Linked DNA regions of Homo sapiens: region 2 is linked to region 1. Evidence: fine-mapped expression QTL. A gene starts in region 1. The other region holds a variant in brackets. All regions are shown on one strand. Distances are from middle to middle.

What was found.
Region 2: its variant is fine-mapped to the expression of LINC02086 in whole blood (TOPMed, PIP 0.97).

Annotation. Positions count from the first base shown.
Region 1 is chr17:48,640,166-48,645,165 of GRCh38, reverse strand. It overlaps LINC02086 (long intergenic non-protein coding RNA 2086), which reads right to left and starts at 2,539. Exons shown (of 8, transcript NR_189645.1): 1 at 1-2,539. The region is part of intron 1 of LINC03057 (long intergenic non-protein coding RNA 3057); the gene reads left to right. RefSeq lists enhancers at 1,945-2,941, 2,942-3,940.
Region 2 is chr17:48,693,379-48,698,378 of GRCh38, reverse strand. All of the region lies in intron 5 of LINC02086 (long intergenic non-protein coding RNA 2086), which reads right to left. Among named protein-coding and RNA genes, the nearest start is that of PRAC1, 27 kb to the left of the region's middle. The variant G/C (reference allele first, on the strand shown) is at 3,028.

The DNA of each region.
Region 1 (5,000 bases):
AAGGGATGAAGCCTCCTCCACCCCAAACATATAGCCTTTGGCTCGCTGGGAGGAGAATTGCTCACCTTCTGCGGTGGTTTAGAACACCACCCTACACAGGGATACACATACACAGTGCCCCAGAGGAAATGCAAAGAAAGGTTTTGCTAGTCCAAGCAAGGTGTTGTGGGAGACCTCAGAGACCCTTAGAAAGAGCCTCACTCCCCACACTGCAACTTGAAAGACCCAGGACATCCCTCCCACCCCCAGGACAGACAGGGTTCTCACCAGCTGGGAACGCACAGAGCCCGTGACAACAGGAGGATCTGTTGGGCTGGGAACTTCACATCCCACCCACCCTGCCTCCAACTTCTTTTTTTTTCTGGCCAGATTAAAAGTCAAGCTTAAAGTGCTGTTGGGTTAGAGAGTTTCATTGTTTTAGTCTATTGGTTTCTCTCCCTCATTTTCTTCTCCCTCATCTCCCTTTTACTCCCAGGTTTTGCCCATTTTTTTTCTCTCTCTCCACACAGAAAATCTGTGAATTTTCTGGGCTTGAACGGAAGGAATGAGGAGGGAAAGGAGGGAATATTTGACCTATCCAGGCAGCACTCAGAGCTGTAATTGACACCAAGTCATCCTAGTAGACCTTGTCCTCACAGGCTTAGAGGATATTTGATTCCAGAATCCCCCACCAGCACCCCAAGATCCAGTGGTACCTCCTTCCTCCTTGGGGCTTCTATAGTTTTCAAAAATGGGAGAAATCAAAAATGCCATCATTATTCCAGTGACCGGGTGTGGAGGGAGTCTGCAGTTTGGCCAGAGGCCTGGTCTCAGAGAAAGGAGTCCTGAGGGCTGGGGGGTTGGGGCAAGGCCTAGGGCCAACTTGGTTCTGACCTTGCCTGCCAGTAGAGAATCTTGGGCTCTTCACCAAGTAAAGGCAAGATCAAGGGACTGGAGGTCTGAGTCCCTCTCTTGCCTAACTGCCCCAAGGGCCCCAGAAACTACTCTGGGCCAAAAATCAGTAATAGTTGAAAGAAAGAAACAAATACTGAAAACACCCAGATTTATAATCTGCTTAGACACCCAAACTCATCCTTAAAGCAGTAAATAAAATTTATCTCCTTGACTGCCTTGCAACTTTCTACTCAGTTTGGCAATGTGTAGATGGGGTCAGCTTGAGTTTCAGAGCTTGGGGGTCCAGCACTAAATGTCTAGAGAGCTAGATCTGGGGCCTCTCACCCCCTTTCCTCATATACCTCCTCTTGCTTCCTTCCCCTCCCAGGGCTTCTCAGAAAGTGACAGCTGACTTCCTTTTAGAACTGTGAAATCCCACAATTTCAGAGGATTTCAAATTCCTTGAACTTCAGGTTGAGAGCTATTTGGATTAATCAGAGAAGTTTGTGTCTGGAAAATGATGCCAGATTTAGCCAGAAAACTGAAAGACCAAATGCTTTACTTTTTTTTTCCTTTGTCTGATCTCAGTGCTTATCAGGTCAACCTTCACCTTTAAAAACACCCTGGTGGCAGTATTTCTTTGCCATCACTGTCTGTAAAGCAAAGGGCAAGCATCTCAGGGCTTTTAGTTGGGCCGGGAATTCAAATGTCTCCTTTCTCAAGAAGATGCCAAAGTGGCCACCCTCAGCCCACTTTCCGTCCTTACCTCCTCTGCCCTTTCCCCAGCTGTAGTTATAGGAATAATGGCCTTTAACTTGCAGAGATCATTAAGGCCAAAGCCCTCACTCCTTCCCATCTCTCCTCTTGGGGCCGTCTGAGTCGCTTCCTCCACGACCCTCCTCTTTTGAAGCACTCCCTAGTACTGTTAAAGGCCGAATTTGGGCTGGAGCGAAGATGGGGGCTCAGTCCAAAATAACCTAGATATTAAGTAATAGTAATGATTTTTTTAAAAGGTAACTATGAACTCTCAAGCCTCGACCACCCAGTAAAGTTCCTCCTTAAATTGTTGCCGGCCCTGGGTGCAGACACGCAAGGACTGGCCAGAACGCGAGAAACTTCTTCAAGGAGAGAGAAGTCAGGGCCCAAATTCCTCATGCTTTAAAGCAGTATAAGAGGAGAGAGTCCAAATTTTTACTCGTTAAACCTCCTCTTACCTCTTCCTCAGGTCTGTTCACTCCTTGGTCCAGGGACCGGAGCTCCTGGGCTTCGAGGTGAACCAGAGGGAACGTGGCTCCCCGCAGCAACCTTTTTGCTTCAGGGCTCCTCCTGGGGGCTGAGTGGTCCCCTTTGCTTTGCTATTCCCGCTGCGGCTCCTGGGGGGACAGCTCCGTGGGACCAGGTCTCTCAGGGGGTGGAGGGTCGCCGAAGTCGTGACCAGGAGTTGGAGACCGCTGCGTCCCTCCGCTGCGGACCTGCCTGGGACTGCGTGGAATGGACCAAGTCCTCCGTCTAGGATTCCCTAGTGCTCGACGGCGCGCACTCCGCAGTGCTCCGCTGGAGATCTGCACCTGTGTCCCGGGGCTGGGCGCAGAGTGAAGATCTCCGTGCACGCTGCTGACCGGCTCGGCGACTGCCTCCCTGCTGTGAGCAGGAGAACAGGAAGTCTGCCCGACAGGGAGGTGGCCGGGCGGGAGCGGCAGAGTCGGCGTTGAGAGGAGGGTCAGCTGCACCTCGGGATTCCGCGCGCCTTCAACTCCCTCTTGCGGACAGCCCAGCCGCGGGTTGGCGCCGCAGTGATGGAACCTGGGGAGGGCCTAGCTTAGAGTCCCAGCAGTCCAGAGGAGGGGACCAGAGCAGAGGATTAGGAACGGGGCTTTCATATCCAGCCTAGGCGCCCAGAAGCGGCACTTAAGGGGCGAAGGGAGGCCGCAATTACAAAGGTGCGCCCTCCGACGCCTCAACGTCAAGGGCCTGTAGATTCACAACCTCCTCTGTCGGGGATGGGGGAAGATGAGGTGGGATAGGGAGGCTATGTCCAGCCACCAGCGCAGGGAGTGGCTCTAAACGCTGACCCAACGCCTCGCCCCAAGCGGGATCTTGGCGCGCAGATAGACCGAGCCCGTGGTGGGGCGCCATGCCGGGCTCCCTCGCCCTTACCGAGTGAGCATCTTCTTCCCAATTTGCTGCTCAGAGAGGGAGTGGGTCCTAGTCTCTGGATCTCAGCGCTCACGACTACCTCGCTGCTCCTAACGAACGGTTCATCTGCTCTCTCCTGGCCGCCTGCGCCAGCGCCGCTCACCCACTTTTCCAGCCCTGGATCTCCTCTCCCCGGATGCGTCCTTCCTTCCCACAATTAACAAATGATCTAGCGAAACCCCGCCAGGTCCCCGGCAGAGAAGCACCTCCATCCGCCCTAACCAACCAATTAATCAGATCATTAAGGAGCCTGAGGAGTTGTAATTGGGTGGTTTGGGACGAGGGGGCGCTGAGGAGGTCATTAACCTCCCCGTAAAGATGGGGAACGGAGACGCGCCTGGCCGCCTCTGCCGCCCCTGCCGCCCCTGCCGCCCCTGTGGGCTCTTCTTAGCACGCGGGTTTTGGCCACTCCACCTGCCTGCTGCGCTCCAGTTCCCGCCTCCAGTCCAGCTATTTCACTTCTCTCTTTGTCATTCTCCGTCTTTTCTCTGGCAACCGTCCAGGGCCCCTTTCTTTGTGCCTACTTCTGTCTACCTGTCCAGCTGCCTCTTGCACCCTTTCTGTGGCCCAGCGGCCAAGAAAACTCAAAGGTCATGGCTGTTGGCCCCCGCTGATGATCTCTGGGCTCCCGGGTCTCAGACAATTCCTCAGGGCTGGCTAGAAATGGTGGGAGCTGGAGATTTGGACACTATACCCATTCCCCAAGAGAAGGGCATTTGCAAAGGGGAAGTGTTTCCTGAAACGTTCAATTCTCTTTCGGTATGAGATAGCTTTGGACAAGGTGACAAATGGCGGAAGGTCCAGGCCCCAGTGGATAAAAGCTCCATATTAATTTAATTAGAGACACAGAGACCTTGCATACTCCTTGTCTGCACAGGCAAATATGGAGGAGGTAGTGATTGGGTGTTGTGGCCTGACTGGTCTCAGTCTAAGAGTCCCCAGCACCTGTGACCTGGTTCCTGGTGTTCCAAGAAGTCCAGGTGACAGTATCTGTTCAACCTTGTGGAACAATAAATTGTTTGTCCTTTTAATTTGTCTTGTCAGATCCCCAAGTATATTACAATGCCTCCCTCTGCATTACATTTTTGGTTGGTTGTGTAAGAATGGTGGATGAGAGGTTCTTAACATTTTGGGGCCACTCCCTGATATGATAATTTAAATTTTGATGAACAATATTGATTCCCCTCTACCCAGAAAAAAAATGTGCGTATGTAGTACTCACCAAATCCCACAATTTCAGAGAGTTTCAGACTCCTCAGACACCAAGTTAACAACTACAATTTGGATAGATCAAAGGAGCTGGTGTCTGGGAAATGCCGAGGCCAAATATAGTCAGTTTACGTAGGTCTTCACCCTTTCTCTTGGCTGACATCTCCATTTTGCCAGGCCAGCCTTCACCTGTAAAAACACTCCGGTGGCAGTGTCCTCTCCCCACCATTACCTGTAGGGTCTGGGCTCCCAGTGGGAGTCAGTCTTTCCTTCCCAGCAGCTGGGAGCCTGAGAACGTGGGAAGAGCTTTGCTGGGGAAAGCTGATCTTAGACTGGCCAGCAGTTGGACCAGCAATGGAAGGAAATCAGGCTTAAGCAGCTTCCCAGGGACTAAAAACCATACCAGAACTCCTGGAAGGGAAGACTATCTGGAAACAGCCTCCTAACTAAAGCTGCCTATAAGTCAAGCAAATGGGGACTGGGCAATAGAATGTTCCTTTGTGTCCCTTATTGACTCACTTATTCCATTTCCTCAGGGACCCAGCTCTACTTGGGGCTGATTTAGCCAAGGTTAGAGGCTGGGGAATACCAAATGCTGAACTTAAAGGGGAAGGATTTGCTCCCTAATATTTTAGTAATCTTGTTTGTAAGAGATAAACAGCATGTGACCCCTGACTATCCTGGGGGACCTCCTAATTACGCCCAGCCTCTTGTGTTGTGGC
Region 2 (5,000 bases), 53 kb before region 1:
ACAGAGTGAGACTGCCTCTAAAAAAAAAAAAGTTACATGTAAAGAAATATCCCCAAATACTACAGATAAATAAAAAGATGATTCTAATGAAAATGTTCAAGTAGCCCACAGGAAGGCAGGGAAAAGAAAATAGAAAAATGAAAAGTGGGCCTGGCACGGTGGCTCCCGCCTATAATCCCAGAACTTTGGGAGGCCGAGGCAGGCAGATCACTTGAGCTCAGAAGTTCAAGACCAGCCTGGTCAACATTGAAACCACGTCTCTACTAAAAATACAAAAACTAGCCAGGTGTGGTGGCAGGTGCCTGTGATCCAGGCTACTCAGGAGGCTGAGGCACAAGAATCACTTGAACCCGGGAGGCGGAGGTTGCAGTGAGCCGAGATCATGCCACTGCGTTCCAGCCTGGGAAATAGACAAAGACTCCATCTCAGGAAAAAAAAAAGGAGAGAAAAACATAAAACAAAAAATAAAACAGCAGGCTTATTCCCTAACATATCAATAGTTATATTGAATGTAAATGGTCTAAATGCAAAAGATTGATATCTATTTAAAAGCAATTGATAGAGTGGATTAAAAAACATGACCTAACTAGATGTGGTGCATAAAGTCATTGTAAGTATAGCAATAAAGGTAGGTTGGAAGTAAAAAGATGAAAAAAGATAGGAAAGATAGGTTATGTAAACATTAAACAAAAGAAAGCAGGAGAGTAGCTATACATATATATATTGTGCATGTATATATGTCAGATAAAGTGGGCTTCAGAGCAAAGAAACTTTTCTAGAGACAGAGACATTGTACAATGATACAAGAGCCAATCTAGTGAGAAAACAAATCATCCTAAATGTGTATGCACCAAACAACAGAACTGCAGTCCATATGAAGCCAAAACTGATAGAACTGAAAGGAGAGATAGAAAAATCGGCAACTGGGGCTGAAGACTTCAATCCTCCTTTCTTAACAATTGATACGACAGCTAGACAGAAAATCAACAAGGATATAGAAGAGTTCAACAAAATCATCAACCAACAAGATCTAATGAATATTTATAGAACACTTCACCCAACAACAGCAAAATGTTCATTCTTTTCGACTACTCAGGTAACACATTTCAAAATAGACCATATCCTGGGCCATAAAACAAACAGATGTAAAACAACTGAATTAATACCAAGTGTGTTCTCTGACCACAATGGAATCAAACTAGAAATCAATAACAAAAAGATAACAGAAAAATTTCCAAATGCTTGGAAACTAAACAACACACTTCTAAGTACTCCATGGACGAAAAAGGGAAGTCTCAAGAGAAATTATATATGTGTATATATAAAATATTTTATATATACAATATTATATATACATCTATATATTGTATGTGTATATATAATACATGTATAAAAATACACATATATGTATATGTATTGCATGTATTATATATTATATAATAGTATAATACATAATATATACTACTACTATTATATAATAGTATAATATTATACTATTATAATATATTATACTATTATATAATACATATAAAAATATACATTTATATATTTATTCATTTTTAGAGATGGGCTCTCGCTCTGTTGCCTAGGCTGGAATGCAGTGGCGCTATCACAGCTCACTGCAGCCTCAACCTCCCGAGTAGCTAGGACTACAAGATCACACTACCACGCTTGGCTAATTTTTGGATTTTTTTGTAGAGATGGGGTCTCCCTGTGTTGCCCAGGTTGGTCTCCAACTCCTGCACTCATGTGATTCACCCGCCTCTGCCTCCCAAAGTGCTGATATTACAGGTGTGAGTCACTGCACCTGGCCAAGGGAAATTGTAAAATACACTGAAGCGAGTGAAATGAAAATATAATGTAACAAAATCTGTGGGACACAGATGAAGAAAATGTATAGCATTAAATGCACATATTAGGACAGTAGAGGCCCAGGTATGGTAACTCATGCCTGTAATCCTAGTATTTTGGGGGGCCAAGGTGGACAGATCGCTTGATCCCAGGAGTTCGAGAGCAGCCTGGGCAACATGGCGAAACTCCAGCTGTACAAAAACACACACACAAAAAAACAACAACAAACAAACAAACCCAAATACAAAAATTAGCCAGGTATGGTGGCGTGTCCCTGTGGTCTCAGTTACTCAGGAGGCTGAGGTGGGAGGATCACTTGAGCTGGGGAGATCAAGGCTACAGTGAGCTGAGATTGTGCCACTGCACTCCAGCCTGGGTGACAGAGCGAGATCCTGTGTCAAAAAGAAAGAAAGGAAAAAAGAAAATAAATGAAAAGTAGAAAAGTCTTTATCAAATCAATGATCTAAGCTCATACCTCAAGAACTTGGGAAAAATATAAATCCAAAGCCAACAGAAGGAAGGAAATAATAAGATAAGAGCAGGGCTGAGCATGGTGGCTCACACCTGTAATCCCAACACTCTGGGAGACCAAGGTGGCAGAATTGCTTGAGCTCAGGAGTTTGAGAGCAGCCTGGGCAACATAATGAGACCCTATTTCTGAAAAACGTTAAAAATTAAAAATTTACCTATCATGGTGGTACACAACTGTGGTTCCAGCTACTTGGGAGGCTAAGGTGGGAGGCTCAGTTGAGCTGAGGAGCTGGAAGCTGCAGTGAGCTATGATCATGCCACTGCACTCCAGCCTGGGCGGCAGAGAAAGACCCTGTCTCCAAAAAAAAAAAAAAAAAAAAGGCAGAAATCCATGAAATTGAAAATAAAAAAAGAAACAGAAAACTGAAAAGAAAAGGAGAAAACCAACGAAACAAGGAGCTAATTATTTGAAAAGATCAATAAATCTCTAGCAAGACTGACAAATTTTAAAAGAGGAGAAATACATTAGCAATGAAAGAAAAGATATCACATGGACCCTGTAGGCATCAAAAGGATAATAGGGAAACACCGTGGGACTTAATAATAGGGAAATAAAATGAAATAGAGAATTATGACCGGGCACGGTGGCTCATGCCTGTAATCCCAGCACTTTGGGAGGCAGAGGCTGGCGGATCACGAGGTCAG[G/C]AGATCAAGACCATCCTGGCTAACACGGTGAAACCCCGTCTCTACTAAAAATACAAAAAATTAGCCAGGCGTGGTGGCGGGCGTCTGTAGTCCTGGCTACTCGGGAGGCTGAGGCAGGAGAATGGCGTGAACCCGGGAGGCGGAGCTTGCAGTGAGCCAAGATGGCGCCGCTGCACTCCAGCCTGGGCGACAGAGCGAGACTCAAAAAAAAAAAAAAAAAAATGAAAGAAATAGAGAATTATGTTTGGAGGCCATTAGTCAGCCTCAGTAGACCTCCAAAGCGTTAATTAGGTCCTAATCCCTGGAACCTGTAAATATTACCTTATATGGAAAAAGAGCGTTTGTAGATGCGATTAAGGATTTTGAGATGAGATTATCCTAGTAGACCTTAAGTGCAATGACAAATGTCTTTATAAGAGAGTAACAGAGGGAGTTGTGGACAAAAGAGAAGGGAATGCAACCATGGAGGCAGAGATTGAAGCAATGTGGCCACAAGCCAAGGAATGTTGGTTGCCACCAGAAACTTGAAGAGGCAAAAAATGAATTCTTCTATAGAGCTTCTGAAAAGTGTGTGGTCCTGCCAATGCCTTGATTTGACCATTGATGCTGATTTTGAACTTCTGGCCTCCATAACTGTGAGAGAATAAATTTCTGTTGTTCAAGTTATTAAGTTGTGTTAATTTGTTGCAGCAGCCCCAAGAAATTAATATCCTCCAAAAAATCTCTACATGCATAAATTTGGCAACTTAAATAAAATAAACCAATTCCCCTCAAAACACAAACTACCTAACTCATCCAGTATGAGTTTATATGTGTAGAGGTTTTTTTTTTAGGGTATTAGTTTAAATTAGTTTAATTTTAGGGTATTAGTTTAATTTGAATAGCCCTATAACTATTAAGAAAATTGAATTTGTAATAAAACCATCCTCCCTCCCTCTCAATATTTCCTGATCCAGATGGTTTCACTGGAGAATTCTACCACTTAAAGAAGAATTTAATTCTTCACAATCTCTTCCAGAGAACAGAAGAGAGAAAATGTTTTCCAATTAATTTTATAAGGTTAATATTATCAAAACCAGATGAGGACAGTAGAACAAAAAGAAAACTATAGACCAATATCCTGCATGAATATACAAGCAAAAATCCTTAACAAAATAGTAGCAAATGGACTCCAGCAATATATAAAAAGAATTATACAGTTGCATTTCAGGGATGCAAGGCTGATTCAATATCCAAAAATTGATCAATGTAATCCACCATGTTAACAGTATAAAGAGGAAAATCCATATAGTCATAGCAATGATGAAGAAAAGACATTTGACGGAATTCAACACCCATTTAATAATTAAAAAAAAAAAAAAACCTGACTTGGTGTGATGTAATCCCAGCACTTTGGGAGGCTGAGGCCGGCAGATCACCAGAGGTCAGGAGTTCGAGACCAGCCTGACCAACATGGAGAAACACCATCTCTACTAAAAATGCAAAATTAGCCGGGTGTGGTGGCGCATGCCTGTAATCCCAGCTACTCAGGAGGCTGAGGCAGGAGAATCTCTTGAACCCATGAGGCAGAGGTTATAGTGAGTGAAGATCGTGCCATTGTACTCCAGCCTGGGCCACAAGAGCGAAATTTCGTCTCAAAAAACAAAAACCAAACAAACAAACAAAAACACCTGTAAGAAAAAATAGGAATAGAGGGGAATGTCCTTAACTTGATAAGCAGCAACTATGAAAAACCCACTAACATTATACTTAATGGTAAAAGACTGAATGCTTTGCCCCTAATAGTGGGAATAAAGCACCAATTTTATTCAACATAGTGCTGGTAGCTCTAGTCTGTGCAATAAGAGAAGGAAATAAAAGATTGGCAATGAAGAGGCAAAACTCTTCCTATTTGCAGATGACGTGATTATATATATAGAAAATCTCAAAGAGTCTACAAAAACAAACAAACAAACCCCCTAGAAATAAGTGAA